Homo sapiens: one gene and its partner. Changing the gene in region 2 together with the main gene of any one other region gives a genetic interaction. Each region holds a gene or a part of one and is shown on either strand. Other genes may lie near its edges.

Region 1 (3,175 bases), on a different chromosome or scaffold from region 2:
TGCACTGTAATAACAGCAATGGAACACACTAGGCTTTGGACAGACTTTACTGTCATATCTTCATTAGCTCAAACTAGAAAAAAGAGTTATTAAAAAGCGGGAGTTCTAGTAACACACAGTCTCTTTGTGAGGAAAAAGGACTTCAGATCAGTGAGGAAGGAATCTGCTGAAATTTCATGAGCATGCCATGCCTAATGCAGCAGACTTCCTAGAAAACCCCTAAACCATGGTATTTGAGAAAACAGAATAAGAGGCGGACCTAAGTGTATCAGGCAGCGGGGAGCAAACGAGCACTGGAAGGGAAGTCTAATGTGTGCTTTAACTGCAGCCACCCACTCAACCCTCCGAGACGAGTAGAGTATTTGCTGTTTCTCTGCCAAAGTTTTAAGGGAGTGTTTTAAGGGCTTTGAAGATTAGCAACTGGAATCCAGGGTGCATTCACAGCCCTGTGTGGGTATTTCCCCCCAAAACCTGCACAGAAGTGAGAATGACAAAATAACGACGTTCCTTCTGTCTGGAATTTAATTTTCTTATGAAAACAAAGACAGAAAAATTAAAATGACCCACTGCCAGGATAACATTTCCTTTTTTTTTTTTTTTTTGAGATGGAGTCTCACCCTGTCGCCCAGACTTGAGTGCAGTGGCGCAATCTCTGCTCACTGCAACCTCCGCCTTCCAGGTTCAAGCGATTCTTCTGCCTCAGCCTCCCAAATAGCTGGGATTACAGGCGCCTGCCACCATGCCCAGCTAATTTTTGTGTTTTTAGTAGAGACGGGGTTTCACCATGTTGGCCAGGCTGGTCTCGAGCTCCCAACCTTGTGATCCACCTGCCTCGGCCTCCCAAAGTGCTGGGATTACAGGCATGAAGGATAACGTTATTTCTACCCATCACTGGCACTTGCCCTTAATCCGAGTCATTTTGGAGCCCCCCTCTCTGTCTCTGGGCCTGCTTAATTAGCTATATGCATCCTCGAGGGCTGAGAAGGAAGGAAGGGAGAGTCCGCAAGTGGATTTTTAGTCTTCACCCAATGCAGAGGCAGTTTTGAGTTCTGTGGACAGCAGAAGCTTCAGTTCTTTGATGTATCTATGACTGGGCCAGAGCTGCAGATGACCAGGTCTGGGGACAGACAGAGTCTTCCCATCAGTCTTCCAGAACAGGGAGGAGATGGCTGGGAGCTCTGTTTGGTACCAACAACCAAAGTGAAGATTATGTGACAAAGGCTACAAAGGAGTCATTTATTAAAAACAAAACCCCAGAAACCCCTCAGCAGGAATTGATGACAACAACAGAGGAATCCAACACCCTGACTGCTTCAGACTCTGTTGACAACAGGATGGGTGCCCCCTGTGAGCTCGATCCACAGTGACTTCAAGCCACAGTGACACAGCACACTAATTCATTACACAGGTCAAGACAGAGGCAGCCACTGGGGCGGGGACCCTTGGGGAGAGGCTGGAACTCAGGGCCCTTCTCCAGCCTTTGTTGTCAGGCATCCTCATGCCAACCGCAGGCTTCTCTTTGCCTCTGAACAATGGGCACCTTCTTACCAGGCAGGGGCTGCTTAGGTAAAGGTCAGCAGACCTAACACTAGTTACTCCCAGAAATCTGGGCTTGCAGCAGAGACCACAGCACAGGGCCAGGCTCTCAGGACACAGCAGCTGGTTCTTTCCCCAGTTACTGGAATTTAGGGCCCATCTCAGAGGGGCATTTGACATGTGTCCCCAACACCCGGTTGTCACCACAGGTAAACCAAGACTATAATCACAACAGCAAGGACAGGATTGTGTTGCTTTTTTCCTTTTTTTTTTTCTTAAAGGAGTGAGGGCATGGAAAATATACAGCACACCAATGAAACAAAATGTCAAAAAAAAAAATACAAAAAAATAGAAAATAGAAAAATGTATTTACAAGTAGTACGTTACTATGATGAGAAAGCACAAAGACACCTGCTGCTATAATACATGCATTGGCTCGAGAAGAAACTACGGAACACCCTGCGAGGGAGAAGCCTAGAAAAGAAAGAAAGGGCCAAAAGGTTTGAACTCTTCATCCCTAATTTGCTACACTGATCAAAACCAAGTAAGGGCTCCTGAAGTCCATGAGTCTATCATCAATCAGCACAAATGCTATACTAGTTTGTAACTGCGGGGTCAGTTGTGAAGGGGAAGGACAGCAGCTTATCCATATACAAGGAAGCCACAGTAAACTGCTCGACATGCTCAAAACGACAGCAAGCCCCTGTCAGCTACACAGCGTGATCTTAGCAGGATTTCATTTTTGTTTATTCATATATATCTATGTGTGTGTTTATATATATATATGTACGTATGTATAAAAACCGTGCCCTTGTTCACTGCCAACACAACATCTGGGTGGACATGAACTCATTACAACAAATTCTTATGTGGATGTTGTAAGAAGTCACTCAATGTCTGTGGATTTAATAAGTCACTTCACACCACAGAAAATATTTAATAAATCCAAAAAAAGGAAAGAAGAATATAACGACAGAAGAGCTTCTGTCTCAGTTCTCTGAAACTGAGTCCCCTATAGGAAACTGGTCCCAAAGTTCTCGAGGGGTCATTGAAGAAACTTCGGTTTGCTAATTTTTTTCATCCTTTTAGTGTTCAAAAGTTCTAGAAAGACTCCTCGCTGTTTTCAGTTTTTAAACAGTCAAATCTCCATCTCCCCCAGAAGGTAACAGTCTGGTGCAGATCCATAAAAACGTGGGAGGAAGGCGCGCTGGGGAGAGGCCTGTCCCTCTTGGAAGGGGCCCCACCTCTACATCCGCAGGAAGAGAAGGAACCAAACAGGGCTCCAGCACCTCTCTCCTGCAAACGAGCTCCCTTTAAATGCCAAATCCAGTCACACGGCAGTTCCTTAAACACAGGTACATTTCTGAGTACCAGGCCAGCTCTAAGAGGAAACAAACCATGAGTTGAGAGAAAAGGACTATGACGGCCATCTGGTCACTTTCCACGTGATCCATCATACTTCCAGGAATCGGGAGCTGCTGGACTTGGAGTGGAAAGGCTCAGACCACATCCGCCGGAGGTCGCCCTGGGAAACAAGGGACTTTCTAAGTTACAGATTTAAACATGAGGCACACACAGCTGTCTGATTCTTTAAAAAAAAAAAATTTTTTTTCCAGGTATGAAGTCTTCCTATATATTG
Region 2 (3,665 bases):
AATAAAATATGACTAGTAAGAGATGTTTCCTCCATTGCTACATATCAGTTATAAATGAAAAGTTTTGGGGGTTAAATGATCTTAGTCTCTTAGCTCAGATGCCTCTCGTACAAAAGGAATTTCCAATAAAAATATATTTACTTTTTGTAACAAACATTGCTGCCTCATATACTTATTATTTTATTTATTGAAATTCTCAAATTGAAGAAAAATAAGATAAATGAGTTAATTAATACAAATCTAAAAGAACTTGGTTGTTTGCATTCAATGTCTTTTTTGTAGAGTATTTTTGTTTTAAAAATTATTGCAAGCTATTGCAACACAGCTAACAGAGGATTTGTTATAAATCTGTAGTAAAATGAAAATTTATAATGATATTAAATCTATAATAAATTAATATGCATGTGCACATACATGGGTGCAAATTTTCATATGAACTTACATCAAACATTTAGGCATACTCTCTTTCTACTATATATATGTCTATAACTACACACACATTTAATAATTTACCCAATGTTTAATTGAGTAATGAATTCATTTAATATAAACTTTAGTATAGCAGAATACTACAGGTTACCCACATTTAACCCTAAAAACAAACAAATGACAGGCACTTCAGTGAAATAACAAGCCCATGTTCAAATATAAAATGCTAAAAGTGAGAAAGAAATTATGAAAATATATACCTTTAATTTGCAGACATATAAACACTTTTGGTACAGTACAGATGCATGATGCCAAAAAGTAAAATGATCCAGTTTAAGCTAACACATTCCTTGTTTATACAGATTATTTTGCTATAGCTCTCATATAAAATAATATTTCCAGCTCACACAATGAATTGAAAGTGATAAATCACTGATGAAATAGCTTTCTTCATTGCAAGAGATTCAGTAAAAGCTAAATTATCAAAGAAATCTGCTGCAGGGCTTACAAATAAACTGTTGGATTTAATCCAAAACCAAAGAAAGGAAGCCAGAAATGGTAGTCAACAAACCTAAACAACAACAAAAAGATAAGTACAGTATAACTTTCATATAAAAGGCCCAACTAAAACAACCAGTAGTGTACACAAGCCTCTAGAAGAATTCACTTTTAATATGATTTCTATTTTCTTATGTGATGGATGATTTCAAGCCTATAAAAGTCTAATATATAACCCAAGTATAAAGTACGACCAACAAGTTGTGAAAGCACTAAAATGTCATGAATGCCTATGAAGCAACTAAAGATTGAAGCATTTCTTTGCTTCTGGCTGTTTTTCTTGGGCACAATATCTAGTTACATTTCCTGTAATGAAGAATATATATATGTATGTATAAATCTATTTCCCTTGTAATAATAACAAGTGCAGTGGTAAAGCAAACAGAAAGCAATTCGAGTACACAGAAAGTGGAATACTCTTCAGCAGGCTGAATCTGTAACACAAGGCAATGATTTTATCCTTGCTAAAAAGGAATTGCACTTCTTTTTAATGCCTTCTCTTTCACACTATATATGCACTTATGAGGTAATAAACATTCTGTTTACAAGTGCATTTCTTTTTTTATCATATGTTTAAATAGGGTGAAATTTAATTTACTTTAATTTCATATTTGTTTAATGTTAAAAACAATATATTTAAAATATACTCTTTCATTAATTTCATGTACAACTGCCAAGTACAATACCCCAGTTTCCTGCAAAGGAGCAGCTGATGCCCTCTTGTGGTGACAGGAATTTTTAGATAAAAATTTGTTCCATTTTTCTTACCTTACTCCCAGGTTTTATCAATCATCTGCTTGGTGTATGAAAGCTGCAAACCATGTCCAAGCTTTTTTTTTTTTTTTAAATACAAGTCCTATAGCTGTTAGTACTAATTTTCACTTAAAAATGCTGTACACATTTTATAACCTCTGAATTTAAATTTAAAAACCTGTAAACAGCTATTTACAATATAGAACAAGTTATAAATTAGTTGTCCTTCATTGGAACTGCCATCAACACACTCTTTTTTAGGTGATGAAGATCCAAAGTCAGTTAAAACATTTCTCTGTGTTATTCCACCATGAAATATCAAATATTAGAAATATCCATTGGCTTTCTCTCTCGCATATGCAAGTCAATTTTTCCTTTCAGTGGAATCTGTACTTCCAAATTTTCATCTTCCCTGGGATGCTTTTCCCCTTTCCTTAAACAGATGTATATGCCCATCCCTGTGACCAGTGTGATGGAACCCAAGCTTATTACAGACAGAGCTACTAAGGTGGGCATACAAGACACAGATTCTACCTTCCTATGAGTCGGTTCTATTGAGATTTGTGGTTCTTTCTCCTCTATATTAATCTCTGGTTCTTTTCTTAAAAGACTCTCAATGTAACTCTCATTACTGACAGTGTCATTGACAAATAGGTTCACCATGACTGTGGAGTGGAGAGGCTCGGGATAACCATGATCACTCACTTTCACCAGTAAGCGATGGAGCCCATAATCTGTCTGCAGCAATGCCTCTTCCAAAGTAATGTTGCCAGTTTTAGGGTCAATCCTGAAGGACTCAGGCCTAGGACCTCTTCTCCCTATGATGCTGTAAGCTATGACAGCATTCATGCCTGTGTCTTTGTCGACAGCATAGACTTCTGTAACCGGGGAGCCTGGCAGAGTAGAAGGCAGTACTAACAGATAAGACATATTAGACTGAGGAAACAAAACAAGAGGAGGGTTGTCATTGATATCTAGAAGGAGAATTGTGATTTTTGCTGTAGAGGAGAGGGCAGGCTCACCCCCATCAACAGCTTCAACCCACAAAGTATAGGAGCTTTGCTGCTCTCTGTCCAAAGAGACTTTAGCCCTCAGCATACCCTTTCCTGTATCTATGACAAAAATATCACTCTGGTTCACCACAGAGAGGGCGACCCATCCATTTCGTCCAGCGTCAGCATCTGTTACACTAATTACTCCAATCTCACCATAGCCTGGAAAGTTTTCAGGCACAAAAAAGCTGAAGTCCTTGTTGATAAACCGAGGACTGTTGTCATTTTTATCCAACACTGTGAGGGCCACAGTGGCTACTGATTCTCTGGGTGGCTTCCCACAGTCAACAGCTCTGACAGTGTATCTGTACTTTTCTTTCTCTTCTCGGTCCAGCTGAGTAGAAACTGTCAGAATTCCTGTGACACTGTCTAAGGAAAAATATGATGGAGCATCAGGTCCCAGAAAATATGAAACTTGGCCTCTCTCCTCGCTGTCGGCATCTGTAGCATACAGCTTAGTCAAAAAGGCATTGGGTGAGTTGTTCTCTTCGATGGTTAGTTCTATTAAGGGTTGAAGGAAAATTGGAGCATTATCATTGTCATCTAAAAGTTGCACTTTAATGACCCTTTTGACATGAAATCCCTCAGAGTTCCAAGCCACCACAGCTACTTCATAGAACTGCTGTAGCTCATAGTCCATAGGTTTTGTGGTCTCTAGTAAATATTCATTATTGTATGGTTTGTAAGGTGATAACCTAAACGGCCCTTCACCATCCAGGTAGCAGTTAACCTTGTATTTACCTTCTGGATCTCTTATGGTGAAAAACGCAATGGGAGTGTTAACGGGTTCCAGTTCTTTCAGATAAACCACACCATCTATCTCGTTTGCTATGTAACGAGGGACAATTTCAGGGGGTCTGAAAATAACTTTAA

What was found.
Region 1: changes in PCDH20 (region 2) and SPPL3 together harm fitness less than expected from each alone (positive genetic interaction), as found in Homo sapiens cells (one large-scale study listed by BioGRID).

The regions. Positions count from the first base shown.
Region 1 is NC_000012.12:120,762,010-120,765,184, forward strand, and holds the end of SPPL3 (signal peptide peptidase-like 3), read right to left. Parts: intron 3,062-3,175; coding exon 2,990-3,061; 3' UTR 501-2,989; downstream 1-500.
Region 2 is NC_000013.11:61,409,185-61,412,849, forward strand, and holds the end of PCDH20 (protocadherin-20 precursor), read right to left. Parts: coding exon 2,059-3,665; 3' UTR 501-2,058; downstream 1-500. UniProt on the Homo sapiens protein: Potential calcium-dependent cell-adhesion protein.